Linked DNA regions of Homo sapiens. The protein of the gene in region 4 binds, or shares a complex with, the protein of the main gene of each other region. Links are inferred from orthologs where the notes say so. Each region holds a gene or a part of one and is shown on either strand. Other genes may lie near its edges.

What was found.
Region 1: NME5 (region 4) and LRRC23 share a complex: the UniProt entries of both Homo sapiens proteins name them as parts of the axonemal radial spoke complex.
Region 2: the proteins of NME5 (region 4) and DNAJB13 are in contact, whole or in part, in a cryo-EM structure (PDB 8WZB), measured with the Mus musculus proteins. The link is inferred for Homo sapiens from one-to-one orthologs. Residues at the interface, in NP_542368.2 of Mus musculus: Glu52, His53, Asn56, Met193, Lys199, Pro200, Lys201, Leu202, Cys203, His204, Phe205; in NP_705755.2 of Mus musculus: Thr156, Lys157, Lys158, Thr181, Ile182, Asp183, Arg185, Trp188, Arg189, Gly191, Thr192, Arg193, Ile194, Thr195, Phe196, Glu197, Pro281.
Region 3: NME5 (region 4) and ROPN1L share a complex: the UniProt entries of both Homo sapiens proteins name them as parts of the axonemal radial spoke complex.

What each region holds. Positions count from the first base shown.
Region 1 is NC_000012.12:6,900,886-6,907,822, forward strand, and holds the start of LRRC23 (leucine-rich repeat-containing protein 23), read left to right. Parts: upstream 1-3,936; 5' UTR 3,937-4,190; intron 4,191-4,699; 5' UTR 4,700-4,748; coding exon 4,749-4,874; intron 4,875-4,959; coding exon 4,960-5,069; intron 5,070-5,523; coding exon 5,524-5,777; intron 5,778-6,429; coding exon 6,430-6,560; intron 6,561-6,937. UniProt on the Homo sapiens protein: Essential for sperm motility and male fertility. Plays an important role in the proper assembly of the third radial spoke (RS3) head and the bridge structure between RS2 and RS3 in the sperm flagella.
Region 2 is NC_000011.10:73,954,010-73,961,028, forward strand, and holds part of DNAJB13 (dnaJ homolog subfamily B member 13), read left to right. Parts: intron 1-1,903; exon of another isoform or gene 1,904-2,023; coding exon of another isoform or gene 2,024-2,193; intron 2,194-3,559; exon of another isoform or gene 3,560-3,845; intron 3,846-4,307; coding exon 4,308-4,411; exon of another isoform or gene 4,412-4,415; intron 4,416-4,527; exon of another isoform or gene 4,528-4,720; intron 4,721-4,885; exon of another isoform or gene 4,886-5,016; intron 5,017-5,484; coding exon 5,485-5,646; intron 5,647-7,019. UniProt on the Homo sapiens protein: Functions as part of axonemal radial spoke complexes that play an important part in the motility of sperm and cilia.
Region 3 is NC_000005.10:10,436,866-10,444,884, forward strand, and holds the start of ROPN1L (ropporin-1-like protein), read left to right. Parts: upstream 1-5,013; 5' UTR 5,014-5,302; coding exon 5,303-5,433; intron 5,434-8,019. UniProt on the Homo sapiens protein: Functions as part of axonemal radial spoke complexes that play an important part in the motility of sperm and cilia. Important for male fertility.
Region 4 is NC_000005.10:138,136,411-138,144,372, reverse strand, and holds the start of NME5 (nucleoside diphosphate kinase homolog 5), read left to right. Parts: upstream 1-4,944; 5' UTR 4,945-4,984; coding exon of another isoform or gene 4,985-5,002; exon of another isoform or gene 5,003-5,469; intron 5,470-5,587; 5' UTR 5,588-5,592; coding exon 5,593-5,721; intron 5,722-7,962. Other genes in the region: BRD8 (bromodomain-containing protein 8), read left to right, coding at 3,491-3,668, 4,207-4,299. UniProt on the Homo sapiens protein: Functions as part of axonemal radial spoke complexes that play an important part in the motility of sperm and cilia. Does not seem to have nucleoside diphosphate kinase (NDPK) activity.

The DNA.
Region 1 (6,937 bases), on a different chromosome or scaffold from region 4:
AGGTTTCCCATTGGTTCACCCTATGCAAATGAAGTAGTGGCCGACTGCCAGTCTAATTGTGGGAGGGGACCAATCAAAATGAAGAGAGTAGGCCTGCTATCAGTCTGACTGGTTGTGAGAGGGGACCAATCAGACGTACTTTCATTTTTCAAATGCCATACAGAGAAAGGAGGGTTTGAAAAGGGAGTACTCTCTGATATTCAGTCAGCATGATTCGGCCTTAGATTCCCTGCCTCCGGACCCTATTCTCCTGCCTCTCAGCCTGGACAATGTAGTGAGACTCTGTCTCTAGAAAAACACAAGAAAGTTCCGGGCGCGGTGGCTCACGCCTGTAATCCCAGCACTTTGGGAGGCCGAGGAGGGCAGATCACGAGGTCAGGAGATCGAGACGATCCTGGCTAACACAGTGAAACCCCGTCTCTACTAAAAATACAAAAAATTAGCCAGGTGTGGTGGTGGGCGCCTGTAGTCCCAGCTACTCTGGAGGCTGAGGCAGGAGAATGGCGTGAACCCGGGAGGTAGAGCTTGCAGTGAGCCGAGATCACGCCACTGCACTCCAGCCTGGGAGAGAGAGCCAGACTCCATCTCAAAAAAAAAAAAAACAACACCAAAAAAAAAAAAAAAAAAAGGAAAAACGCAAGAAAGAAAGGAAAGTGGTAGTATATCCACATAATGGAAGACTAGACAACTATGAGAAAAAGAGGTAGATTTATGCTTAGTGACATGAAAGAAGCCCAAGACATATTAGAATTGAATAATTAGAAGAAAAAAACCCTAAACTAATCTAAAAATCTTTTTTTCTTTTTTTTTGAGACCGAGTCTCACTCTGTTGCCCAGGCTGGAGTGCAGTGGTGCGATGTCAGCACACTGCAATCTCCGCCTCCCAGGTTCAAGCGATTCTCCTGCCTCCGCCTCCGGAGTAGCTGGGATAACAAACGCCCGCCACCACGCCCGGCGAATTTTTGTATTTTCAGTAGAGACAGGGTTTCGCCATGTTGGCCAGGCTGGTGTTAAACTCCTGACCTCAGGTGATCCGCCCACCTTGGCCTCCCAGAGTGCTGAGATGATAGGTGTGAGCCAAAGCGCCTGGCTTTTTTTTTTTTTTAGACAGAGTCTCGATCTGTTGCCCAGGCTGGAGTGCAGTAGCGTGATCTCGGCTCACTGCAACCTCTGCCTCCCGGGTTCAAGTGATTCTCGTGTCTCAGCCTCCCAAGTAGCTGAAACTACAGGCACAAGCCACAACGCCTGGCTAATTTTTTTTCTTTTTTTGAGACGGAGTTTCACTCTTGTTGCCCAGGCTGGAGTGCAGTGGCGCGATCTCAGCTCACTGCAACCTAGGCCTCCTGTATTAAAGCGATTCTGCTGTCTCAGCCTCCCGAGTAGCTGGGATTACAGGTGCGAGCCACCACCCCAGCTAATTTTTTGTATGTAGAGACGGGGTTTCACCATATTGGCCAGACTGGTCTCAAACTCCTGACCTCAGGTGATCCACCCGCCTAGGCCTCCCAAAATGCTGGGATTACAGGCGTGAGCCACCACGCCCAGCCTAAATATTACTTTTATAATTGAAAGAGACTCTATCTAGACCAGCCGATGGGGGAAAAATATCAAGGATGTTGTGGAGTATCTAGCTCTCATTACACAGTGTAACTTCAGTCCTTGCCAACTAAACACGAAATAAAACCTTCAATAGCTCCCCACAGCTTTCAGGATAAAGTCCAGATCCTTCAGTGTGATCCAAGTCTGTTTACTGCTTCTACCATATTCCAACCCCCGACTGCACCTACTGTTCCAGCCAGCAGAACCACCTGCTTTCTTTGCACAGGCATTGAGCTCTTTCTTCTCCAAGCATTACCACAGGTGATTCCTGCCTCTGAAATCTCTGCCCCGAATATATGATATCATGTATATGCATATACTATACAATGATCCCTAGCACTTAGTAAAAGCTCTATAAATGTTGGGTATGATTATTATAACATGTCTCATTATATTGAATTACTTGTGTACTTAATCTTGTCACTGAACTGTACACCTCTTGAAGATAAAAGATAAGGACTTCTGTGCTTTACTGTCCCGGAGCACAGGGACAGATTAAGTGCTTAACAAAAGCATGGCAGGGCGCAGTGGCTCATGCCTATAATCCCAGCACTTTGGAAGGCCGAGGCGGGCGGATTGCTTGAGCCCAGGAGTTTGAGACTAGCCTGGGCAACATAGCAAAACCTTGTCTCTACAAAAAATACAAAAAAATTAACTTGGCATGGTGGCGCACACCTGTAGTCCCAGGTACCCAGGAGGCTGAGACGGAAGGACTGCTTGAGCCCAGGAGGTGGACGTTGCAGTGAGCTATGATTGCTCCACCGCACTCCATCCTGGGCGACAGAGGGAAACTCTATTTCAAAACAAAAATAAAAACAAAATAACAAAAGTGTATGTTCAAGGACACCTTCCTAACCCTTACATCACAACTTTTCTTCCCATCTAATGTGTCTTCCTCTTTCTTCTTGGCCAAGGAAACTCATATCCATTTCTTTTGACTACATCAAACCACATGGATTTTTCCCTTCTCCACACTCCAACAATACAATAACTTTCATTTGTATAGCACATCTCACTCTTCAGAGTGTTCATATTTATTATTTCTTTTTCCTCACAGCAACCCCAGTACCAAGGACACAGGCCAGGGGTGGGGAGGAGCAGGAAAATGTTTACTAAGGGTCAACTAAGTGCAAGGCGATTTACCCACATTATCTCTTTTAATCCCTTAACAATCCTTACAGGTGGACGTTTTAATAATCCCCATTTCACGACTGTGGAAATTAGACCTCAGTAAGATTTCATAACCTGCTGAAGGACACACAGGTATTAAGTAGTAGAGATGGGTTTTGAAGCTGGTGTCTCTGACTTTAAAGTCCCTACTGGTTCCATGACACCAAGTAAACAGATTTGCCTATTAACCACATTCCTCCAAGCTGCCCTGGGCAGGAGGTAATATAATACTTCCTGATTTCTTGCCCACCACATCTTCCACCAGACCACTTTGCCGTTATATAAAGTCTGTGGGCACAATTTAACAATGAATCACATGCCATCTTACCTGGTTACCTCATTGTTTCATTTACATTAGATTCCACAACAAGATTGGTAACATCCCCCTTTCCCCAGGCAGGAATTGTGTCATCTTAACCTCCCTGAGCCTCAGTATCCTCTTCTTTCAAATGTCTATCTTACAGGACTGTTGCAGAGATTAAATATCAGTTGTAAAGATGTTTGACATAATGTCTCGCACAAACTCTCCAGAAATATTTATTGCATCTCAACATCTTTTTCATCTCCTTCAACATGTCAGACAGGCCTGAGTGCCTGGGTTTGGCTATGCCAGTTCCTGTTGATTACTGATATAACAACGTTGGATCAGGAGTATTTTAGTGGGCAGATGTTGAATTTTCTGCCTTCCACCCACTAAAAGGTTTGCATCAAACCAGTCCAGGATAACTCATACTGGATCCCTGTCAGTTGATATAGTTAAGCTAATTCTACAGATAACAAAGAGTCTTGGGTACGTTTAGCTAGCAAATGCAGATCTGCCAAGACTCCAACCCAGTTCTTAAGGTATCTGGGTCTGGACTCCTTCCGCTCCACCAAGCCACCTTCCAAAGGTCTACCTGAAAATAACTAATGAGCAGAAACTATAGGGGGAAGGGGAAAAGACCCCTTATCTTGGTGTTTCTTGCTTTTCCTCGCAGCCCCGCCCTTTTTGCTTCGAAGGACGAGTTTTTCCTGAATTCACAATACTTTTGCATTGAAGATGTCCGGTCCCTTTAAGGTCTTGGGTGACGTAATGACTAGCCCCGCCCCCTCTCTTCTCGCTTCTCAGCCCTGCCCACTTCTTTTTGTCCTCAGCCAATTAGCGGCCCAACGCCCCTTCCGCGCCTCATCCGGGTTCCCGGGACGGGAAAGTGGCGTGGTAACCAGGCAACTACTGATCAATCCCCTCCCCGGCTGATTTGCGCATCAGGTAGTCGCCGCTCTACTCTCAACGGTGGCGAGCTGCAGTTGCCAAGTGCCCCGTCCCCGTTGCCATAACAGCAGTACACAACCCCTCCTTCCCCTCGCCCGCTTGCTAAACAGTCCTTCCCTCTCGGGACCAAGGGCCTCTCCAGAACTGCTTCTGATTGAGCAGAAACAGGGTCTGAGCCCCTTTGCTAAGGCGAATTGAGTGGGAGGGTTGGAGACTGCGCTTTAGGCTGGTGTACCAGAGGGCCCAAGGAAATTGGCCCAGTGGGGAGGGAAAAGTAGAAGAAATGAATGGAGCAGGGATTACGGATGGCGCAATGGGAGCTGAGAGGAGAGGAGGAGGAATTGGTAGGGAAGATTGGAGAGCATGGCTTAAGGGGGAGGTGGGAAGAATGGGGGAGAGGGAAGCCCAGGAAATAGGGACACCCGGCTGCTGGAGGAGAGCTGGAGTCACTGTGAAGGACAGGAAAGGCCTGGGGGTGTGGGTGACATCCTGAAGGGAGGGGGTCCTCAGTGGAAAGTGTGAAGTGGGAGTTGAGAATCAAAATGAGATGTTCACAGGGATAAGGAAAGAAGCCTAGAGTTGGTGGGTCAGAAGTCATGGGGGTGATGGGAGTGGCACGTGTCAATGACGATGAAGGAGCTGAAGGCTGGCAGAAGCTGATGAGACCTTCTTTTTCAGGAGGAGGACTGAGCTTATCTGACTCCAGAGCTTTCAGGAGGGAAGAAAGATGTCAGATGAAGATGATCTAGAAGACTCTGAGCCAGACCAGGATGATTCTGAGAAAGAAGAGGACGAGAAGGAGACAGAGGAGGGGGAGGACTACAGAAAAGAGGGGGAAGAGTTCCCTGAGGAAGTGAGAGCCTGGACAAGGAGGGGTCCTAGGGCTGAAGGAGGGGGTTGGGCAGGGGAGAGACACCTTACTCCACTTCTACCTGCAGTGGCTGCCCACCCCCCTCACGGAGGACATGATGAAGGAAGGGCTTTCTCTGCTCTGTAAGACAGGCAATGGGCTGGCTCATGCTTATGTCAAGCTGGAGGTTAAAGAGAGGTGCGTTTTGGGGGGACCAGATGAGGACTGTGAGACTGTAGGGCCCCTATCTCCTTTCCCACTGTCATTCCTGGGTGTTCTGGTTGAGAGTTTGACTCTTCTCATGCCTAGTGGAAAGGGAAGGACAGAATTTACTTTTCAGGAGCTCTGAGACTTCTCCTATCAAAGCTGACCTGGGGAATTGGAGATTGAGAGTATATGGGGGGATTCCTGCTGGATTCCCTTATTTGTCTTTCAGAGTATGGGTTCTCTGTCCTTCACAGACACAGGTCTCTCTGCCCACTGTTAAGAACCCACCTACCTTCTCTTACCCTTCTTCTCCCCTACCATCTGTTGCCCATTCTTCTCCCCATTATAAGCCATCTCCATATTGCCTTCTGCTTTAGCAACTCTGCCAGTCCTCACTGGGTGCTTAACCCTAAACCTGGTTTCTTCTCCCTCTTCCATCTCCTAGGGACCTGACAGACATCTACTTGCTGCGCTCCTACATCCATCTGCGCTATGTGGATATTTCTGAGAACCACCTGACAGACCTGTCTCCACTCAACTACCTCACCCACCTGCTCTGGCTCAAGGCTGATGGCAATCGGCTGCGAAGTGCCCAGATGAATGAACTGCCCTACCTGCAGATTGCTAGTTTTGCTTATAACCAGATTACTGACACTGAAGGCATCTCTCATCCTCGTCTTGAAACCCTGAATCTCAAAGGTGGGTCTTTAGGATGGGCTACACAAGATTCTTTCCTTCCTAGCCTGAGGCCAACAGAAGTGGGCAGTATGGTCCTTGGCTAGGGCACATGGCAGTCTGCATTCATTCATTCATTCAGATACGCAATATGATTCATTATGACAGTTCTACATGCTAACCATATAGGATCCAATAAGACAAGGAACGTCCCTATTCTCATATAGCTTATATTCTAATTGGGAGAGACAAACAAGTAACAACAAACACAGTAAGTACATTCATGTAGCATGTTAAAAGGAGACAAGTGCCTTGGAAAAAATAGATCAGAGTAAGAGGAATGGGGGACACAGGTGGCAATGTCAAATAGATTGGTTAGGACAACCATCACTGAGAAGATGACATTTGAGCAAAGAATTGAAGAAGGAGAGGGAATTAGACATGTCAGCTGCTTCATTCACTCTTCAAAGGCTTAGGTGGATATGTCCATCAGGACCTTGGACTACCTACCACACCACTTGCCTCAGGGCTCCAGAGGTATTAAGTCTGGAGCTGGCCTTCCTCAGTATCTACCCTGCTTTGCGAATGGTAGGATGATTTAGAGGCTCCCCAAATTCAGGCTCTAATGCTGAGCATTTGGAGTGGCCCTTTGAGCTCTTGAAACCCTCCTCCCCAGGGAACAGCATCCACATGGTGACAGGTCTGGACCCCGAGAAGTTGATCAGCCTGCACACAGTGGAGCTTCGGGGGAACCAGCTGGAAAGCACCCTGGGAATCAATCTTCCTAAGCTGAAGAACCTCTACCTGGTAGCTCACTGGGTCAGAGGGTGGTGCAGGGAAGAGGGCACTGTCCTGGGGGTCAGGATGCCTGCTTTCTAGTAGGCTCAGCTACTAACTTCATCATTATGATAATAACTGGTATTATTATCAAGACCATAGTTGGTTCCAGATGCTGTGGAGATACACAGCCACCTAGCAGGGCTGATAATATATAATGTGTGGATAATACAGAGATAATTTACCTTGATACAGGTAGTAGCAAAATGGACCATAATTGAGGTACAAACATCAGTCTGTGGAAATGTTTTAGGAAAACCCTCCTCTCAGACTGGGTTTTTCTTCAGCTCTTACACTACCACCACAACAATCATCAACATACGACTTCCGGGACCAAAGGTGTGGGG
Region 2 (7,019 bases), on a different chromosome or scaffold from region 4:
AATAATAATAATAATAATAATAATAATAATAATGGCTGGACACAGTGGCTCACACCTGTAATCCTAGCACTTTGGGAGGCTGAGGCAGGTGGACCACTTGAGGTCAGGAGTTTGAGACCAGCCTGGCCAACTTGGTGAAACCACTTCTCTATTAAAAATACAAAAAATTAGCCAGGTGTAGTGGCGCATGCCTGTAATCCCAGCTACTGGGGAGGCTGAGACAGGAGAATTGCTTGAACCCAGGAGGCAGAGGTTGCAGTGAGCCGAGATCGTGCCATTGCACTCCAGCCTGGGTGACAGAGTGAGACTTCGTCTCAAAAAAATAAATAAAAAAAAGTAGGCCGGGCGCAGTGGCTCACACCTGTAATCCCAGCACTTTGGGAGGCTGAGGCGGGCGGATCACGAGTTCAGGAGATCAAGACCATCCTGGATAACATGGTGAAACCCCGTCTCTACTAAAAATACAAAAAAATAGCCGGGCGTGGTAGCAGGTGCCTGTAGTCCCAGCTACTCGGGAGGGTGAGGCAGGAGAATGGCGTGAACCTGGGAGGCGGAATTTGCAGTGAGCCGAGATCGCGCCACTGCACTCCAGCCTGGGCAACAGAGTGAGACTCCGTCTCAAAAAAAAAAAATAAAATAAATAAATAAATAAATAAATAAATAAGGCTGGGCACGGTGGCTCATGCCTGTAATCCCAGCACTTTGGGAGGACGAGGCAGGAGGATCTCCTGAGGTCGGAAGTTCAAGACCAGCCTGGCCAACAAGGTAAAACCCTGTCTCTACTAAAAAAAATTAGCCAGGCGTGGTGACGGGTACCTGTAATCCCAGCTACGCGGGAGGCTGAGGCAGAAGAATCGTTTGAACCTGGGAGGTGGAGGTTGCAGTGAACCAAGATTGAGTCATTGTACTCCAGCCTGAGCAACAAGAGCAAAACTCCATTTCAAAAATAAATAATAAATAAAAATAAATAGAGTGATTAAAAGAACTATGTAGGTTTCAAAAAGCAGTCCTTAACCCTTCTCCCCTGCAATAACTCTAAGTCACATGTATGACATGCTTGCTCATGGGATCACCTAGATATTGATCAAAAAAAAAAAGAGCTAAACTTATATAAGGAAGAAAAACATCATGATAGTTTATAATTGCCCAGGATTCATAATTGCAGCGTTCAAGCTGTGATTTCACCCCTTTCTCTCCCACTCAGGAAAGCAGGTGAATGAGAGTGATGTTATTGCAGGGATAATTTTGAAACCACTCAAATTTATATGAAAAACTAAACCTTTCTCAAACCTTGTTACTTTTTTTTTTTTTTTTTTTGAAACGGAGTCTCTCTCTGCCACCCAGGCTGGAGTGCAGTGGCAGGATCTCTGCTCACTGCAACCTCCACCTTCTAGGTTCAAGTGATTCTTCTGCCTCAGCCCCCTGAGTAGCTGGGACTACAGGTGTGTGCCACTGTGCCCGGCTAATTTTTTTATTTTTAGTAGAGACGGGGTTTCACCATGTTGGCCAGCCTGGTCTCGAACTCCTGATCTCAAGTGATCTGCCTGCCTCGGCCTCCCAAATTGCTGGGATTACAGGAGACTGAGATGGGCAGATCACTTGAGGCCAGGAGTTTGAGACCAGCATGGCCAACACGGCAAAAACCCGTCTCTACTAAAAATACAAAAATTAGCCAGGTGTGGTGGTGGGCACCTGTAGTTCCAGCTACTTGAACCTGGGAGGCGGACAATGCAGTGAGCCCAGATCGCGCCACTGCACTCCAGCCTAGGTGACAGAGTGAGACTCTATCTCTAAATAAATAAATAAAAATAACTGACTGTGACCTTTATAATTGAGAAAGGCTGGTTTGGAAGGCTGTGACAATTGTCTTCAAGTCTCTGAAGGTAGATATTCTCTCTGTAAGGTCCCCAGGGCACAGCCAGGACCCTTATGGATGGAGGGGCAGTTGCAGGACCACAGATCCAGCTTCCTGTCCGCAGTAAGAGGAGGCATTGCCTAAAAGTCAGAGCCATGCCACAGTGAGATGGACTGTCCTGCAGGATGCTTAGCATGTATCATTTATTTACTCACTCCTGCTCAGTGCCCAGCACTGGGGCTAGAACTGGATGCAGCAACTCCAGGACCTCCCAGTCTATTAGACAGAGGAGTCAATATACACCTGGAACACAGCACTGCTGAGGACAAGGATCAAAGGTGCTGGGGACTTGGGAAGGGGAGTCTAACCTAGAAAGGAGGCTAACAATCAGGGAAGGTGCCCTGGAGGATTTGGCACCTGAGTCGAAAGTTGAAGGATGAATTAAAAATTGCCCAGAGAAGCTGGGAGGAGCTGCAGAGGGGTGAGTCATGCAGGAGAGGTCAAGGGAGCAGCAAGAGAGAACAGTGAGTGAGGCCAGAGGGAGAAGCAGGGGCTTGGATCTTAGAATGAGACATCCGAGTTTTATGCTGGAGACAATGGGGAAACCAGTGAAGGGTTATGCCAGGAGAGGGACCTGGTCAGAAAGTATTTCAGAAGGCTGGGCGCTGTGGCTCATGCCTGTAATCCTAGCATTTTGGGAGGCTGTGGTGGGCGGATCACCTGAGGTCAGTAGTTCAAGACCAGCCTGGCCAACATGGTGAAACCCTGCCTCTACTAAAAATACAAAAATTAGCCAGGCGTGGTGGCTCGCGCCTGTAATCCCAGCTACTTGGGAGGCTGAGGCAGGAGAATCGCTTGAACCCAGGAAGCAGAGGTTGTAGTGAGTAGAGATTGTGCCATTGCACTCCAGCTTGGGCAACAAGAGAGAAACTCCATCTCAAAAAAAAAAAAAAAAAAAAGTATATGTCTGGGCTCAGTGAATTTATGATACCTTGGAGAGGAGATGGCAAGTAGGCACTTGGAGGTAGTCTTTGGCTCAGGGAAGTGGTCTGGTTCGGGATGGAGATTTAGCTGTGAGAGACAGAAGCCTGCCTCTGGAATAAGAAGAGAAGCTGTGGAACTCTGGGGATGGCGGCGAGGCGGGTGTGGGCACTAGAAAAGCGGGTGGAGGCAAGGTGGGGGGTCACGCCTGGGCTGAATGACAGGCGTCTGTGCTGGATGCTTCCCGTGCAGCCCTCCAGACCCACTCCCCACCCTTCCTGCCCTGCTGCGCTCCGGGAGGCTTCCTTGCCCTCAGCCTTCCACATGGAGCCGGCCCAGGGGAGCATCAGGCGGGGAGATGGGGAGGGAGAAGGGCAGGGCTGCGGCTTTATTCCCCAGTTCTCCTCCTATGGGGTCTCTTCAGTCAGCTGTGTCGCTTGACAGAAGGTCACAGCTCCGCTGAGGGCCCTGTCCACACACTCCAACAGACCCCTCGGGGTTCCTGGCCTGGGAAAACTGCACTCCGCTGTCCCTGGCAGTCTCCCTCCGCTCCTCCAGCACCTGGGCGAATGGTCCCTTTATTAAGCTCTCCACAAACCACCCAATCCGCTCCATCTCTCCCCCACCCCGGGTCACTGCCGATACATATTCTCAGACGCTGCGATGTCTGCCCTTCAGAAACAGGCCAGCTGGTACGACTTGTATCAACCCTCCCTCCTCCAGGTGCCGCAGACTCGCCCTTTAACCACCCGTTGAAGTCAAATGAGCCGTCTTCAGCAGAGATTTTCAGGCAAATAGCAGAGGACTGGGCAGGAACAGAAGTGGGGAAAAAATGAGCAGAGAGAGGGTGGGGGCGGCACAGGAACCGGACGGGCACTGAGCGCCTCAGCCATGCCCGCTGCACACCCAATTGTAGCTCATCCTCCCAAGATGCCTGTGTGTCTGCTCCGGTCCTCTAAGAAGCAAACAGGATTAGATGAGCAGGAAATGCACCTGGAGAAACCGTGAAGTATGAAGGGAAGGGAGCAGGGGCGCGCACAGTACAGCCTGACACCTGCGAGTGGAGACAGGGAGGGGAGGAAGGAGGGAGAGTGCAGCGAGGCCCGGGGAGCAGCTCAGCCAGCCTCTGGGGAGCCCTCGCGCAAAGCTTGCCCGTTGGAGGAGTCCTGTGTCTTGCAGGAATGGGCCAGCCCTGGTATCCCCACCACACGTAAGCATTGAGGGCAGCTCAGGGGCAGTTGCTTCAGCTCAGATGCCCAGGGGGGCAGCTGCTGGAACTGTCGGTCAACTGTGCTCCCCGCACCAGCTACTCTTCAAGAGCTGAGCAGTGCACCTCCGCAGCCACCACAGCTGGTGAAGTCACCCCGGATTTATAGCTAGGCAGGAGTGAACAGAGTGCCGGCTCTGAACTCTGGTCCGCCCTCAGAAACAGACCAGCTGATAAGACTTGTATTAATTCTCCCTCTTCCAGGTACCGCAGACTCGCCCTTAAGCACCACCCGTTGAAGTCAAATGAGCCGTCTTCAGCAGAGATTTTCAGGCAAATAGCAGAGGCCTACGACGTGCTGAGTGACCGTGAGTAGGTGTGGGGCTGAGCACCCCGCTTGATTAGGATCATTCCTTAAGTCTCTAGACTGTTGGGTTTTCTGAGGGGGCCCAATAACGAGGAAGCATCCTTCTTCCCTGCCTAGAATCTAGACACACAGAGAAGACAGAATACGGACCCGCCTTTCTCAGTAGAAGCAAGCTGAGGTGGAGGACGTGGGGTGTGGAGCCCAGGATTACACTGACTCGCTCATCCTGGCAGGCAGTGTGGGAGCTGGGGCACATTCCCCACGCATCCCTATGCCCTGCGGGGACGGGACCTTCCCCGGGAGAAACAGAGTAAGGGGCTTGCAGCTACGGGGAAGAAAGCTGAAGCTGGGCAGGCGTGCCCACCTGTCCCTCCCAGAGGTCCTTCCCAGTGGCTTAGTGTCCATTTCCCCAGGGCCAGCAACAGTAGGAAGAGGCAGAGAAAGGCCAGGAGTAATTAGGAAATCTGTCTCCTAGGGAAACCAGCAGAGTGAAGAAAGTGTGATCCCCGCCCCGGCACCCAGGGCCGTCCTGCGGGGCTTTCCCTGGGGGATTGTCCTGGAGACTAATCCTGGTTCCTGCGGAAGTGCAGCTAGAAGATCACTAAGGTTTCTACAGCCCCGAGTTTTCAGGACTTCAGGGTCCTTAGACTCTAGGATTTCGAAGTTTTAAAATTTGGAGGCTCTAGAATTCTTAGCTTCTAAAATGTCAAGGTTCTACGATTCCGTTTACCCCAGATAAGACAGTGGCTATGATGACTGAGTTAGGCCAAATCCCAGGGCCATTGCCTGAGCCTCAGTCTCTCAGTTATTCCCCCAGTCTCTCACCCTGCCCCCAGCAAACTCAAGGCTTTCCCGTCTCTCTTCTGGGCTACAGGAGCCATACCTAGGTCCTCCCAGAATGAAATGGAACGCCTGACTCCTAGGGTCTCATTCCAAAGACTGCCAGACAGCAGGCACTTTGGGATCAGGCTGCTTCTGCCCCTTCCCTTTCTCCATATCCGCCTGCTTCCCAGCCCCTCCACCTATCTCAGCCCCCAAAGTTGGACACCTCCTTAAGGTGATGCCCATCCACAGCCATGAAGAGAGGCATCTACGACAAGTTTGGAGAAGAGGGCCTGAAGGGTGGGATTCCTTTGGAGTTTGGATCCCAGACCCCATGGACAACTGGTTACGTCTTCCATGGCAAACCTGAAAAGGTGTTCCACGAGTTCTTTGGTGGAAACAACCCCTTCAGTGGTAAGAGGTCTTCCTCCCCCACCTTGCCTTATAGAGAAAGGACACTGCTATAAGTGATGTTTTCGTTGAGTAGTTTTGTTTTTATTTTTACTTTATTATTTTATTTTATTTACTTATTTTTTTTGGAGATGGAGACTCACTCTGTTTCCCAGGCTGGAGTGCAGTAGTGGGATCATGGCTTACTGCAACCTCTGCCTCCCGGGTTCAAATGATTCTCCTCCCTCAGCCTCCCAAGTAGCTGGGACTACAGGCGCACGCTGCCACACCCAGTTAATTTTTTTATATTTTTAGTAGAGACGAGGTTTCACCATGTTGCCCAGGCTGGTTTCGAACTCCTGAGCTCAGGCAATCTGCCTAAGGCCTTGGCCTCCCAAAGTGCTAGGATTACAGGCATGAGCCACCGTGCCCGGCCTATTTTTACTTTAATAAATATATATAAAACACATTGCAAAAGAAAAAGTAAAACAGAATTCATTGAAAAAGAAATACATTCCAGCCCTCCATTTTCTTTTTCTTTCTTTCTTTTTTATTTTTATTTTTTAGATGGAGTCCTGTTCTGTCACCCAGGCTGGAGTGCAGTGGCATGATCTCTGCTCACTGCAACCTCCGCCTCCGGGGTTCAAGCAGTTCTCCCTGCCTCAGCCTCCTGAGTAGCTGGGATTACAGGCACCCACCACCACACCCAGCTAATAATTTTATATTTTTTAGTAGAGACGTGGTTTCACCATGTCTGCCAGGCTGGTCTTGAACTCCTGACCTCAGCTGATCTGCCCACCTCTGCCTCCCAAAGTGCTGGGATTACAGGTGTGAGTCACCACGCCCAGCTAATTTTTGTATTTTTCATAGAGTAGAGACAGGGTTTCGCCATGTTGGCCAGGCTGGTCTTGAACTCCTGACCTCAGGTGATCTGCCCACCTCGGCCTCCCAAAGTGCTGGGATTACAGGCATGAGCCACCGTGTCTGGCCGAGCCCTCCATTTTCTTCCTCAGAAGCAGCTACTAGGGAAGCAGCTATTAGTAAACAGTTTATGTATCCTTCCAGAAACTTGCCATGCTTGTATGAGCTGTATTTATTTTTACAGAAGCCTTTTATTAAGGAAATAGGGCCAAATTTTACACAATGATTTTTTTTTTCACTTAATATATCTTGGAGATTATCTTATATGTTATACTATATATAGATCTACTTTATTCACTTACATGCAAATCTATATACTATGTACAGATCTGCATAAGATTTCATTGTACAGATGTCTATTAGGGATCCATTGCAGAAGCAAATACTGTTTTAGCCACGTGAAGCAGAAAGGGGTTCAAAACAGGGAATTAGGTGCTTTAAAAAATCACCGAGGCCAGGTGTGGTGGCTCACTCCT
Region 3 (8,019 bases), about 130 Mb from region 4:
AAAAAGTAATTTTTATTTCAACATTTAATGTAACTGCTATTATTGTGGATTCTTGTCTTGTGTATTTTCTTTCCCTTATTCAAGTAATATAGAATAACTTTCCTTAAAATGATTTGATCCAAGATACGTCATTTCTGTATTGGCAAAATGCCACTATTAAAGTGTAATTCTTGAATTTAGGTTGAATTGATGACTTTTTAAAACAAAACAAACACTGGACAGTTCTACATTGTATTGCGTTTGCGAATGTGCGTGAACACACGCACACGTGCAGGAGAATGTAGTGCCATAAGAACACTGGCGCTTTTTAAAACTTTCCAAGCTAGCTACTTATTTTCATTTTCAGGGTTGAGTACTCTAAGCTCTCTACTTACTGTGAGAAGTTTTCTACATTGTAAAATTAAAAGATTATATTTAAAATACTTCTTTAGGATGTTATTCAGCCATCAAAAAAAAACCCAACTAAAATGTCTTACCAGTAAAGTATTATTAAAAGCCTCATTTGTGGAGATTCGCTGACTTCCTTGGTTAAGCTGTCTTGTATTTACTTAATTTGTCCCCTCAACCAGGTGTTTTCTTTTCAGCCTGTTACTGTCCTGTGCCATTTTTAAAAATAGCCATCATGAGTAAGGGCTTCTTTAAAATAATCCCTGACAATATCTTTGGCATTAATACGACATAAAGACAAGACAGTATATGTATGTTTTCATTCCTGTTTTGTACGAGTGCCTCATTTTGTAGTCATGAAAGTAACATAGTACCTTAAATAAAAATGTAATGACTAATCTAAGGTCTAGGAATAACTATTGTAGAAGCTAAGTAGAACACTTAGTTTGGGGTGTCAATTTTCTATCAACGCAAACACCTTAGGGTACCCAGACCAATTTTATGTATATATATTCTGAAATGCTCCCTTTTTAATGTGGTCATTTGTTGCCTTCTAAGTTGAGAGGACAAAACTGAATAAAGTGAATGTTAATTGTAGTCTAGTTTTTTTGTTTGTTTTTGTGTTATTGCAAGATTGCTTTAAGATTGCAGAAATATGCATTATTAGCCAGCATAGATAATCCAGATGTTATAATAGGAAGGAAAAACAACTCCAGTTAAATGTGACTGTGGCGACTCCCTTTTATGTATACATTTAAATGCATAGTTGCAGAGGACACATCCCTCCCCTTCTGTCTCCCTAACTTGAACTGTAGACCGTCCTCACTGGGAAGAGTAAGGCCCCACATTTTGTGCAATAGCAAGCTACTGCCCACTTCTGCATGTCTGCTACGAGATCAGAAAGTCAGTTTCACTAAGGTTGTCTTTTAGCTGAATACTTAGAGTAAAACCAATCAAATCCATTGTACATACCTGACCATATGTCCCAGATAAAAAGGAAAGACTTGCGTGATGTTTTTTTCCTTCTGAGTGCCCTGAGGAGATCCTTTTGCTTCAGACTATTTCTAATTTTTCTTTGTTTATAGGTTCAGAATTTTTTCCATGATTGTTTTCCCCCAAACAAGTGCATTTTTAATTACTTTAAATGCAGGGGTGATAGAGGAAATGCTATTCGAACCATAGACATCTTTAATCTGTGAAGCTGAAATTTTTCAGCAAAGGAAATTGCATGGTCAAGTTCAGAAACTGGCCATTAATTTCCCCCTTCCGCTCCACAGTTCATAGCTACTCTTGTTGCAAACATGTAGTGATAAGGAGAACTAACGTATCAAGGGGCTGAGAGGGTAACGTTCCCCTCCTCCTCCATGTTTTTATTTTGGTGTCTGTTTTGTTTCTAGCACTGTATTTAGTACTGTAGTTGAATGAGGTATGATGTCTCCCTTCAAGGAACTCAGAATGGAACAGAAGCATGAGCAAAAGATTGTATTACAGAGGTATGAATAAAATGCCATGGGGAACACAGAGAAAGGTTCACCCGGGAGAGATGGCCTAGCCACTTCCTTAGTGACTGTTTGGTATATGTAGGTCCCCCTGCCATTACTCTTTCAGCCTTCTGCAATCTAGTTCTACTTAGTCACACACTTCTCTAAGACCACTCATACGTAAACACTACGTAGAGGCCCCTTTTTGCCTCATTTTACATTGTTTAGTTATCATTTTGAAACTTTTCTTCACATATGTAACAGTGCCGGAGTTTTTCTGCTTCTCTGTGTTTGTTCAGTAACTCTTCTTTAGGATACACCTAAAGATGAGAAGCTTCATACCCAGTACTCCTCTTCATTCACTCATATGTTTTTGGGATCAGTCCCTTCTGCTGGCTGTGCATTGGTCTAATGGAACAGAATAGAGTCCAGAAATAACCCAACATGTATGTGGACAACTGGTTTTTGACAGAGGTGCAAAGGTCTTGAAAAAATGATGCTGGAATAATTGGGCATCAGATGCAAAATTAAAAACAAATTGATCCATATCTTAACACTGGCAAAGATTAAAGTCCAAATGGATTATAGTTCCCCAAAACTGTATAATTTCTAGAAGACAACAAGGAAAACGTGTTCAGCCTTGGGTTAGGAAAAGATTTCTTAAATCCAACACCAAAAGCACAATCCATGAAGGAAAAATCGATAAATTGTACTTTATCAAAATTGAGAACTTCTCTTTGAAAGGTACCATAAGGAGAACAAAAAGACAAGCTGTAGAGTGGCAGAAAAATATTTGCAAAACATTTCTGATAAATGAGTTGCATCTAGATTACATAAAGAAGTCTCAAAACTGAACAAGTAAACCCATTGTTTACTTAATCGCTGTTTCTCCTGAGCTTGCTGCCTCTGCCCCTGCTCTCTCTCCTTTTCCATTTGTTTTCAACATTGAATCCAGAATGTTCTTCTTGAGATCCAAGTCAGATCACACCAACCCTCAGAACTCTCCAATAGACGACCATGGCACTCAAAAGTCCACAATAGCCTTCAATGCTGGGCAAAACATGAAGCACCCCTTTTCTCCCTTCTCTGACCCCATCACCTCTGTGTTCACCCTGCTCCTGCCGTCCTCCCTGCCTCCAAAACAGGTCAGGCCTTCGTGCCTTTGCACTTACTATTTGCAATACCCAAATGTTCTTCAGGCTCTTTAGCCTCTTCATTTCTTTCCTGAAGTGTCATTCTCACTGAGGCTTATCTAAAGCTGCAGCTACTGGGGCATTCCTGTCTCATCTCCCTGCTGTATTTTGTACTCCCGGCTCTCTTTTGTACTTTTAAACATACTATATGGTTTACCTTTGTTGTTTATATTTGCATGTTGTTTCCCACTTGAATGTAAGCTCCAAAGATTTTATTTTTTTAAACTGAATTATTACTGTATTCCCAGAACAATTCCCTGGCAAATATTTGGTACTCAATAGTAATGCTAAGTTAGTAAATAAATGATGAATTTAGAATCAAAATAATGTGTCTATGGCCAAAATAAAACCTGAAATCCCTGTCCTATTTCCCAGAGGTAACTGCTGTTAATAGTTTAGTTGTGTGCTTCCAGACATACCTTCACAGAATCATTTATCACAATAAAGGTGTCATACTATGCAGATTGTTTGACAAGATGCTTTTTTTCACTTTACACGGGCATCTTTTCATACCATTGTGTGGCCAGGCCATGATTTGTTTTCCAAAAGACATTTACCCAATTTATATGGTGAAGATTTTTGTCCATATTACTTTTTATAGTATTTCTGTAGGGTAAGTTCCCAGAAGTAATATTGCACGATCATCGAAAAATTTTAGTGTTACATTACTGCCCCATAAAGGTACTAATTAACATCCCTCTCAACAACATAGAAGATTCCTTTTTTTTTTTTTCTTTTTTTGGGTGGAGGGGGGCGGGGACAGAGTCTTACTCTGTCGCCCAGGCTGGAGTGCAGTGGTGCCATTTCTGCTCACGGCAACCTCCACCTCCCGGGCTCAAGCTATTCTCCTGCCTCAGCCTCCCAAGTAGCTGGGAATACAGGCACGCGCCACTACGCCCAGCCAATTTTTGTAGAGAAGGGGGTTTCACCATGTTAGCCAGGCTAGTCTCGAACTCCTGACCTTGTGATCAGTGCTGGGGTTACAGGCGTGACCCACCGCGCCCGGACGGATTTCTTGTTTTCATACTGTCATCAACTTTAAATACAAGTATTTTCAGTTTTTGCCAATGCTGTTAATTTAGAAATGTGTATGTATATATTGTCTGGTGGGTGTTTGGATGGAAACGATCAAAATCGGGCAACTTCCCCAGTTTCCTTGAAGGGAGTGCTTGCCATCGGCCCCTCTGGGAAGTAGCTCTCCGTAGTTCTCCATCTTCCTGTTTTGAGGAACGCAGGAGGAGGTGGATCTGGAGTCTCATCCATTCGGTGGCTGTTAACGGCAACTGCAGCAGCCAGCCAGGTCACCCCCTAAAGCAAAGTTAACCCCTTGCATGGTGCCTTGGTCAGCACCCACCAAATTCGAGGTTTCTCCTATCCTTCGACTCGAGGCTCTTTTGACAGATGTGATTTATTTCCTCCTAGAGCCAGTCACATTGGCTCAAGCAACCTATCGTAAGAAAACAAATACAATAGTGTTTTAGCTGGAAACTGCCCACTGTCTAAGCGGCTTTTTAAATTAAGAACTCAGGTTCACTACGGGATGGCTTAGGCCAGGGAACAGCATGTGCGAAGTTCGAAGCCCGAGAAGTTTGGAGGAGCGGCCCCAGGCGCAGGCGGGTCCCGCAGCGGGGCCCGTGCCGCCCAGGCGATCAGCCCCTTCACTTAACCCGCTTCCCTCCTAGCAGGCCCGAGTCCCCTAGCCTCAGCCTCACGCAGCCAGAGCAAGGGGAAGAGGGAGTCCTTCGTGAGTTCGCCGCTCACATTCGGCGGTGGGAAACCGATCCGAAGATGCTTTTGTAGGCGAAACGCTCAGCTCGCGCGGCTCTGAACCACCGGGGAGCAGCGGCTGCTGCTAGTCGGACTACGCCAGCACCTCCTTGTCCAGCCCGGGAGCAGCCCCGCCTCGCTCAGGGCCGCGTGCGCGTGCGCGGCTCCAGGGGCGGGGCCTGCTCGCGTCCCGGGTGCCTGGATACCGAGCGCGTCCGTAGTGGCGGCTGGCGCTAGGGAACTGCAGGGTCTAGGGTGTTGTCGGAGTGGCAGTTGGTCCGAATTTCTCCCGAAGCCCGCGGAGGAGCGGGTAAGAGCCCCGCGAATCCGGCCCCAACCTCGGGAACGGGATGGGAGGCGGCCCTGGCCGCAAGCCCCGCGCTGCTAGCGGGTCCACCGCGTCGTAGCCGACAGCCGCCCTTCTTCCTCGCAGCGCGCCGCGATTCACCAGCCTGGTCCCTTCTGCGGAGAGCGATGCCGCTTCCCGACACCATGTTCTGCGCTCAGCAGATCCACATTCCCCCGGAGCTGCCGGACATCCTGAAGCAATTCACCAAGGCTGCCATCCGCACCCAGCCGGCCGACGTGCTGCGGTGGTCCGCGGGGTAAGCGCCCTTGGCCCGGGGAGCTGTCCGGTCTACATGCCCAAGCCAGACGAGCCCAGAGAGCCCTCCTCCCGGACCAGGGGCCTTACGCGGCACTCAGCGTCCTTAAGAGTATCAGGCAAAACTTTCCCCTTAGCATTGGTGACATCTATACTTGAGTGTTTTATCTAGGAACCATTTCGATTTATCGACTATGAGACCCGAAATCATTGCAAAATGCTCACTTACCTACAACGTAATGGCAACTCAATTGTTTAAAAGTGTTTATGATGAAGATAGACTAAAACTTAACAAAGTAATTGCATTGGGCAAAAAAGTGTTTACATTATGTTAAAAAAATTACACGGTTGCAGTCACTTTGTGAAATGACTTTACAAAGAGGAATATTTTAGCTAAGTTCCTCATCTGCAGAGAGTCCTCTCAGAGCTATGTATACCCAGAGCTGGTTAAATTTATTAGAACCGGAACGACCGTGGTCATACTGAGGTCATCATCCCTAGAGTGCTCAGGGTAAACTGTCCAGCAAATGAAGCTTCACAGTTTATTTTTTGCCACAAACATTCCAACACTTGCCAGGAACAGACATTCATAATCTCAAAGTTACAAGTCAACAGATCTTAGAGGCATTAAAAGAAATCCTCTTGGTTTTACAGGAGAGCTCTTTGCCCCTTTTCAATAAACAGATGTAAAACAAAAACTCACTTTTATGATGACAAGAGTCAGCACAGGTGTAAATTTAATTTAAATATTTTAGTCATCAACATTTCAAATTTTGGCTGGGCTTGGTGGTTCATGCCTGTAATCCCAGCACTTTGGGAGGCCAAGCTGGGAGGATCACTTGAGCCCAAGAGTTTGAGACCAGCCTGGGTAACACAGCAAGACCCCATCTGTATTTTTTTTAATAAGAAAACTAATTTAAAAAGAAAAAAAACAGCCAAATTTTGCTGGCTTTAAACTCTATAACCAAAGTGAATTAGTTTCGTTTGGCTGCTGTAACAAATCACCACAAAACTTGACAGCTTAAAACACAGACATACATTTGGGCCGGGCGCGGTGGCTCACGCCTGTAATCCCAGCACTTTGGGAGGCCGAGGCGGGTGGATCATGAGGTCAGGAGATCGAGACCATCCTGGCTAACAAGGTGAAACCCCGTCTCTACTAAAAATACAAAAAATTAGCCGGGCGCGGTGGCGGGCGCCTGTAGTCCCAGCTACTCGGGAGGCTGAGGCAGGAGAATGGCGTGAACCCGGGAAGCGGAGCTTGCAGTGAGCCGAGATTGCGCCACTGCAGTCCGCAGTCCGGCCCGGGCGACAGAGCGAGACTCCGTCTCAAAAAAAAAAAAAACACAGACATACATTCTTGCAGTTCTGGAGGCCAGAAGTCCAAATTAGTTTCACTAGGCTAAAATCAAGGTGTTGACAGGGCTTTGCTCTTTCCAGTGGTTCTCAGGAAAACCCAGCTCGTTTCCTTGCCTTTTCTGGCTTCTAGAGCTGCATTTCTTGGACGCCTTGGCTCATGTCCCCTTCCTCCATTTTCAAGGCCAGCATCTTCAAATCTCCCTCTGCCTCCTTCTTCCAAGGACACTGGTGATTGCATTCAGTGGCCATCCAGATAGTCCAGGGCAGTTTTCCCACCCGAGATCCTTATCAGTCCACAAAATCCCTGTTACCATGTAAAGTAACATTCCCAGGTTCCTGGAACATGGACCTGGATACCTTTGGGGCTGTTATTTTACCCACCAACTGAGCTACTTGTCCATCCAGTGCTTGCCTTCTGAGAAATGCTTTTATCAATGGTTTCTGAAAGACTCTTTCAAAGTTCTTGCTAAAGAAATATAGCCTCTGGTTTTAACCATTATTCAAGCTTAAATAAAAGGATTTATAAGAGTTTGTGCTGTACAAAAAATTCCAAGATTTAGCAACATCTTCTTGGAACATTAAACTATATTTAGTAATACCTTAGAGATAGTTATGTTAAGCTTCACTTTGTTTATTTATTTATTTATTTTTGAGACGGAGTTTCACTCTTGTTGCCCAGGCTGGAGTGCAATGGCGAGATCTCGGCTCACGGCAACCTCTGCCTCCCGGGTTCAAGCGATTCTCCTGCCTCAGCCTCCCAAGTAACTGGGATTACAGGCACTTGCCACCACACCCGGCTAATTTTTGTATTTTTAGTAGAGATGGGGTTTCACCATGTTGGCCAGGCTAGTCTCGAACTCCTGACCTCAGGTGATCTATCCACTTGGGCCTCCCAAAGTGCTGGGATTACCAGTGTAAGCCACCGCACCTGGCCTAAACTTCACTTTAAGAGGCTTAATCAGGCTGGGCATGGTGGCTCACACCTGTAATCCCAGAGTTTGGGAGGCCAAGGCTGATGAATCACCTGAGGTCAGGAGTTCGAGACCAACCTGACCAACATGGTGAAACCCCATCTCTACTAAAAATACAAAAATTAGCTTGGTGTGGTGGCACGCATCTGTAGTCCCAGTTACATGGGAGGCTGAGGCAGGAGAATTGTTTGAAACCGGGAAGCAGAGGTTGCAGTGAGCCAAGATCGTGCCACTGCACTCCAGCCTGGATGATAGAG
Region 4 (7,962 bases):
TCTTAAAGATGGTGTGTCCAGAGTTTGTTCCTTCGGATGTTCAGATGTGTCCGGAGTTTCTTCCTCCCGGTGGGTTTGTGGTCTCGCTGAGTTCAGGAGTGAAGCTGCAGACCTTCACAGCGAGTGTTACAGCTCTTAAAGGTGGCGCCTCTGGAGTTGTTCGTTCCTCCCAGTGGGTTGGTGGTCTCGCTGGCTTCAGGAGTGAAGCTGCAGACCTTGGCGGTGAGTGTTACAGCTCTTAAAGGTGGTACATCCGGAGTTGTTTATTCCTCTTGTTGGGTTCGTGGTCTTGCTGGCTTCAGGAGCGAAGCGGCTGACCTTCACGGTGAGTGTTACAGTTCATAAAGGTAGTGCGGACCCAAAGAGTGAGGAGCAGCAAGATTTATTGCGGAGTGAAAGAACAAAGCCTCCACAGTGTGGAAGGGGACTCCAGCGGGTTGCCACTGCTGCCTTGAGGGGCCAGCTTTTATTCCCTTATTTGGCCTCCTCCACATCCTGCTGATTTGTCCATTTTACATAGTACTGATTGGTCCATTTTACAGAGTGCTGATTGGTCCATTTTTATAGAGTGCTGATTGGTGCGTTTACAAACCTTTTTTGGTGCGTTTTTACAGAGTGCTGATTGGTGCATTTACAAAGCTTTAGCTAGACACAGAGCGCTGATTGGTGCATTTACAAATGTTTAGCTAGACACAGAGCGCTGATTGGTGCGTTTTTACAGAGTGCTGATTGGTGTGTTTACAAACCTTTAGCTAGATACAGAGCACTGATTGGTGTGTTTACAATCCTTTAGCTAGACAGAAAAGTTCTCCAAGTCCCACCCAACCCAGAAGCCCAGCCAGCTTCACCTCTCAGTATTTTGGGATTTTATTTTTATTTTTTATTTAAAAAAATTTTTTTGAGACAGGGTCTCACTCTGTTGCTGGAGTGCAGTGGTGCAATCATGGTTCACTGCAGCCTTGACCTCCTGGGCTCAAGCAATCTTCCCACTTCAGCCTCCGGAGTAGCTGGGACTACAGGCATGTGCCACTGCACTTAGCTAATTTTTAAATTTATTATTTTTTAAATTTTTACTTACTATTATTTTTTGAGACAGGTCTCACTCTGTTGCTCAGGCTGGAGTGCAGTGGCACATTTCTTGGATAACTGAGCCTCAACTGCCCAGGTTCAAGCAATCCTTCCACCTCAGCCTCCCTAATAACTGGGTCTAGAGGTGTGTGCCACCATGCCCGGCTAATTTTTGTATTTTTTATAGAGATAGAGTTTCACCATGGTGCCCAGGCTTGTCTCAGACTCCTGGGCTCATGCAGTTCACCCACCTCAGCCTCCCAAAGTGCTGGGATTACAGGTGTGAGCCACTGTGCCTGGCCTGATATTTTTATTATAATAAAATATTTTCTTTGTTTGAAATGTTATTAATAACTTTATTTTTCTTCAGAATATCACTGAGGAGGAATTTTTAAATTTTTTGTAGATATGGGGTCTCACTAGATTGCCCAGGTTGGTCTTAAGCTCGTAGTCTCAAGCAATCCTCCCACCTCAGCCTTCCAAAATGCTGGGATTACAGGCAGGTAATCCTAGCCTATTTTGGATTTTTTTTTTTTTTTTTTTTTGAGACAGTCTTGCTCTGTCACCAGGCTGGAGTGCAGTGATGAGATCTCGGCTCACTGCAACCTCCGCCTCCCGGGTTCAAGTGATTCTCCTGCCTCAGCCTCCTGAGTAGCTGGAACCACAGGCACACGTCACCACGCCCAGCTAATTTTTGTATTTTTAGTAGAGACAGGGTTTCACTATGTTGGCCAGGATGGTCTCAATCTCTTGACCTCGTGATCCGCCTGCCTCGGCCTCCCAAAGTGCTGGGATTACAGGCTTGAACCACTGTGCTCGGCCTATTTTGGGTTTTTATAGCATAGGTCATCTAAAATGCTGTCATAAACCTGTATGGTAATAGAATGTAAAAGATCATGATAGGACCTTTGGAGAGTCACTAGTCTGTGCTGCTATAGCACAATACCACAGGCTGGATAATTTATAAATAATAGAAATCTATGTTTCTTTGTTTTGGTTCTGGAGGCTGGGAAGTGCAAGATCAAGGCATTGGTAGTTTTGGTGTGTGAGGTGGGTTACTCTCTGCTTCTGCTTCTAAGATGATGCCTTGTTGTTGTATTCTGCAGAGGGGACGAATGCTGTATCCTCACATGGCAGAAGGGACAGAAGGATAAGAGGGCACTCTCTTCGATATGGAGCCCTTTTATAAGGATGCTAATCCCATTCATGAAGGCAGAGCACTCATGAATTAATTACCTCCCAAAGGCTCCACCTCTTAATACTGTTGCACTTGGGATTAAGTTTCAACATGAATTTTGGAGGGGATACCATCATTCAAACAGCAGAGACAATGATACCATCATTCAAACAGCAGAGACAAACTTCTTTAGGAATGAGGAAACTAAAGCTCAGAGGTGCTTGGTCATGACTTGCTCGTGATCAACCAACAGTTAATAGCAGAGCTAGAACTAAGCCCCAGATTCTTACCTGCAGTTCAGTCTTCTTTCTACACTGCTGTGCCTTCTCTTATATATCTACTTTCTGTGTCTCATTAATATTGTCTTAATATTCACTTGATCCTTTTTTCATCTCCATGAAAGGAGAAAAAAATTATTCTTAGCTTTTTATTTGTGCAGTAAGAGAAGTAGATGAAATAATATATGACTATACATTGTAAACAGCAAATAACTACTGTGTGATAAACTGATGATTGGTGCTCTTTACAACTTTGATACCTGGGGCCAGCACTCCTCCTCTGATAGTAGAATATAGTGGCTTGACCTGTGGGCTCTGGAGTCAGGCTGCCTCTGAATTGGAATTCAGGCTGTGTGCCTTTCAGTGAGTACTTAACCTCTTTAGATTTCAATTTCTTCATCTGTGAAATGGAGATAATAAGGCCGGGGGCGGTGGCTCACACTTGTAATCCCAGTACTTTGGGAGGCCAAGGAAGGTGGATCCCCTGAGGCTAGGAGTTCGAGACTAGCCTGACCAACATGGTGAAACCCTATCTCTACTAAAAATACAAAAATTAGCTGGGCATGATGGCGCACGCCTGTAATCCCAGCTATTCTGGAGGCTGAGACAGGGGAATTGCTTGAACCTGGAAGGTGGAAGTTGCAGTGAGCTGAGATTGCTCCATTGCACTCCGGCCTGGGCAACAAGAGTGAAACTCCGACTCAAAAAAAAAAAAAATGAGATATTAATGATACCTACCTTACAGGTTTATTGAGAGGATTAAGTGAGTTAGTATAGAAATACAGTGTTTGGCCCATTGTAAACAGGCAAATATTAACTGCTGTTGCTATTTTATTATCTGATGAGGGTTGTTATCTTTGCTACTGTTTTCATTAAGAACTGGTTAGTTCTTCAAGAGAACGTGTTAGGTTATCATATGTTCCACATGAAGGTTTGATTTTCTTTGTTTTTTCTTGGCCACCTGCAGACCCATGGACTTAACTAGCCTGAAGAGAAATCTCTCTAAGGGTCGGATTCGCACCATGGCCCAATTCCTGCGAGACCTGATGCTGATGTTCCAAAATGCTGTAATGTACAATGACTCTGATCATCATGTATACCATATGGCTGTGGAGATGCGGCAAGAAGTCCTGGAGCAGATTCAGGTACTGTATGCAGATACCTGTAGCCTCTGGAATCTTGATTTCAGAACGCCTATGAGAATAAAGGTGATTTCGAGGTGACTGTGTTCTCAGAGTTTATTTTTAAAGGTGATTAAGGCCCTGAAGGATTGATAATGTGCCTGCTGGTTTGGAAAACCCTGAGCCTCAGTAAGTCCAGCTCTGATAGTGAAGTAGTCTAGGAATGCAGGCAGCAGTGAAGAGCTCTCAAGAGAGCTGAGGATAGACAAGTAATGGGAATTCCCGCTTCCAGAGCCTCAAGTCAAGGGCTAAACTCCAAAGAGGCTGGAGTCACTGTGTATTTTTTGGTTGCTTCATCTGTTGTTATTAATGTACGTTCACACTTTCCCATCTTTAGGGGATAAGATATAGTAGCTAGAAGACATTTGTGGGTTTCTTTTCTGGGTAGCATCATACTTTAAAGAAAAAAGTATAGTTGAGTCTATTTGCCAAAAAAATAAACTTGCAATACTTTAGTGTTTAAGGTTCATAATAGCTTGCTATGTGTTCCTTAACCCTTTAGGTACTGAATATCTGGTTAGACAAAAGAAAAGGCTCAAGTAGTCTGGAAGGAGAACCAGCTAACCCAGTGGATGATGGAAAACCTGTTTTCTAACCTGGAGCTGCTATCCTGACTTTTTCTAGAGTTTGAATCTCTCCCGGAACTCTGACCTAGAGAGGATCCTGGTACTTCTTTGCCATGTCCTCATTTTCTTTTCCAACAAGAATAATACCTTAACTCACAACCAACGAGTCAAAGATGCATGTGGACATAATATAAAGAAAAAAAGGGGAAGCTGAGGTTTGGATTTATGCCATAAATGTTGCCCACATCTTTGTTCCATCGGCTTGATTTAAAGACAATTCCATTAGATCTTTTCTAAGCCTTTTACTCTATAAATAAATGTATTTACACAATAGGAATATTGCTTTTTAATGACTAGATAAGCTGGGCATAGAGGGCACAGCATCATCTGGTGAAACGAAGGTATCTGACACGGGTCATTTACATATACCGCCTGGAAAGGAATGGTTGGGGGAGGGGTTCTTATCATTTATAGAGTAGGGATAATTGAAGCATCCTTCAAACGGGAAGAAGGATGAAATAAGATAAATTATGAGTAAAATGTCAGAAAACATCTAGTGCTCTAAGATTCACAAGGAGAATAAAAGTGACTGGCTGGCTCCCTTTGGTTAAAACGAACTGGCCAGAAGCTGCAAGGTTCCTTGCTGGGATTGGCTCTCTGCAGCCACCGTCCCCACGCTGGGGCTTCAGGTCTCCTAGCAACAAGTTGTACCATATGAGGACGGCCGCTGAGGTGAGTACTTAGAGAGGGTCAAATTCAGAATTTGCAGGTGCAACCCGGAAAGTCCCCGCGGACCTAGAGGCCCTGCTTTTCAATTAGCCTGACCCTATGCACAGAGAGGTCCCTGCGGGACAGGGTCGCTTCACAGAGGCAGCTGGCCGAGGCCGCTCACCCGCCGCTGTAATGGTGTGTGGTTGCCCACCAGCCACCGTCCCCTCGAGCCCCCACCACCCGCTCTACCGCCCCCTCGAGCCCCCACCACCCGCCCCACCGCCCTCTGCTGCCTGGGGCTGTTGCTGGTTCCAGGCCTTCGGGTCGCCCCTTGGCCTCTGGTTATGTGAGCCCATAGTCCTTCCTGCCTTGGTGACATCGTATACGAAAAGCCGGGGCTCGATTTGGACATAGTAGGAATCCTATTATTGAGACCCTGTATATAGAAAAACATGGCAGTTTCTACCTTCATCAGTTAATAAAATCAAGTACCTACTATTGCTATTCTTAATCATAATTACATTGAATTTGCGATGGGGGTGGGGGGAAATGCATGTCATTGCAGTTGATACCTGTTAAGAAACTCTTAATTTGTGCCCTGAAAAGCCATAATGGAGATATCAATGCCTCCACCTCAGATATATGTAGAAAAAACTCTGGCCATTATCAAACCAGATATTGTTGACAAAGAGGAGGAGATACAAGATATTATTCTTAGATCCGGATTCACCATTGTTCAGGTAACTTCTGGGTATGATGATTCATGCTTTTTTCCTCTCTGCCCTTAAAAAAAAAATGCTTATGTAAATGTGCCTACCCATTTAAACCCTTAGTGTTCAGCATTAAATTTAAGTTTATTCTTCTAAGTATAAAAGTTATATGTGATAGTTTTTAAAAGGATGTAAAATGAGAAATAAAATGGACTTTTCCTTCACCTGTCCTCTTTTACCCCAAGTCCCAGGCTCCAGAGAGAGGCAACCACTTAACACTTTCTGTTCTTCCAGGAGTTTTCTATGCATTTATAAACATTTTCCCCCCATAAAACAGAACAGTCCCTTTCCCTTGACCCCTTTACAGAGTCCCTCAGATAGGATTCCAGATCATTGCATCTGAATTGATCTCACTCTTCCTAATTTCTGTGTAATATTTCCCTGTGTATTAGAACTACAATTTATTTACTTGATCTTCTATTGATGGAATTTTAGGCTATTGGTACTTTTTTCAGTTATGGCATAACATTTAATGTTTTAAGCCTTATGTTCTGCAATTAGTAAACATTGTCATTCTAGGGGTTTGAAAGTGAATATAAATAGCATTGTTAAGGATAAATCAAATAGAATTGAATATTTTTAATCTTCCTCTTTTATAGTTTTTTTTTCTTTTTTTTGAGACAGAGTCTCCCTCTGTAGCCCAGACTGGAGTGCAGTGGTACGATCTCGGCTCACTGCAACCTCTGCCTTCCAGGTCCCGGTTCAAGCAATTCTCCTGCCTCAGCCTCCTGAGTAGCTGGGATTACAGGCATGCACCACCATGTCCAGCTAATGTTTGTATTTTTAGTAGAGACGGGGTTTTACCATGTTGGCCAGGGTGGTCTTGAACTCCTGACCTCGTGATCCACCCGCCTCGGCCTCCCAAAGTGCTGGGATTACAGGTGTGAGCCACTGCACCCCGCCTCTTTTACAGTATTCTCATTCGAACTTCCAATTTTTTATTTTCTCCCATTTATACAGTGTCATATTGCTTATTCAGTCAGTATTTTTAAAAATAAAGAGAAAATGGCGGGTACGGTGGCTCACGCCTGTAATCCCAGCACTTTGGGAGGCCGAGATGGGTGGATCATAAGGTCAGGAGTTTGAGACCAGCCTGGCCAATGTGGTGAAACCCCATCTCTATGAAAAATACAAAAATTAGCTGGGCGTGGTGGCGTGCACCTGTAGTCCCAGCTACTTGGGAAGCTGAGGCAGGAGAATCGCTTGAACTCAGGAGGCAGAGGTTGCAGTAAGCCAAGACTACGCCATTGTACTCCAGCCTGGGCAATAGAGGGAGATCTGTCTCAAAAAATAAATAAATAAATAAAGAGAAAATATCAATCTTCAGAAAAGATACGGAATTTCAGTTGAGCTTCAAAGGACAGGTGGAGTCCGAGAGTAGGGATGGCACAAGAAAGTGTTAGGAAGTATTTAATATGATTAAAGACTCAGGTAAATAACTTTTTAGTAAATGTTAGGAAAACTGGTAGCCACTGAAAAATTTGGATCAAGTATTATATACCAGGATAAACTCCAAATAAACCTGAGATCTACATATTAAAAAAATTAAACCATGTAAGTTCAGGAAGAAAAGATAATGGATTTATTTTGTTGTTGGAGTAGGACAGCCTTTTTTTTTTTTGTTATGACTTAAGGTCTAGGAGCCATGGAAGAAAAGATTGATAAGATTATATCAACAAGGCCAGGCACGGTGGCTCATGCCTGTAATCCCAAAACTTTGGGAGGCCAAGGTGAGTTGATCACCTGAGGTCAGGAGTTTGAGACCAGCCTGACCAACATGGAGAAACCCCATCTCTACTAAAAAATACAAAATTAGCCAGGCGTGGGGGCGCATGCCTGTAATCCCAGCTACTCAGCAGGCTGAGGCAGGAGAATCGCTTGAACATGGGAGGCGGAGGTTGCCGTGAGCCGAGATCGTGCCATTGTGCTCCAGCCTGGGCAACAAGAGCGAAACTCTCGAAAAAAAAAATTTTTTTAATTTAAAAAAAGATTATATAAACAAAAAATTTCTGCACAATGAAATAAACACCATAAGCAAAGTCAAAACACAACAAACTTGGGAAAAAGATTTGCAACTCATAGACAAAGGGCTTGTCTTCTTAATACATAAAGAGCTCCTAGAAAAAGATAAAAATAAATTAGTAGAAAAATGGGCAGAACAGATGGATGGTCACAGAAAAGGAAAAACATTTTTTAAATATATGAAAAGAT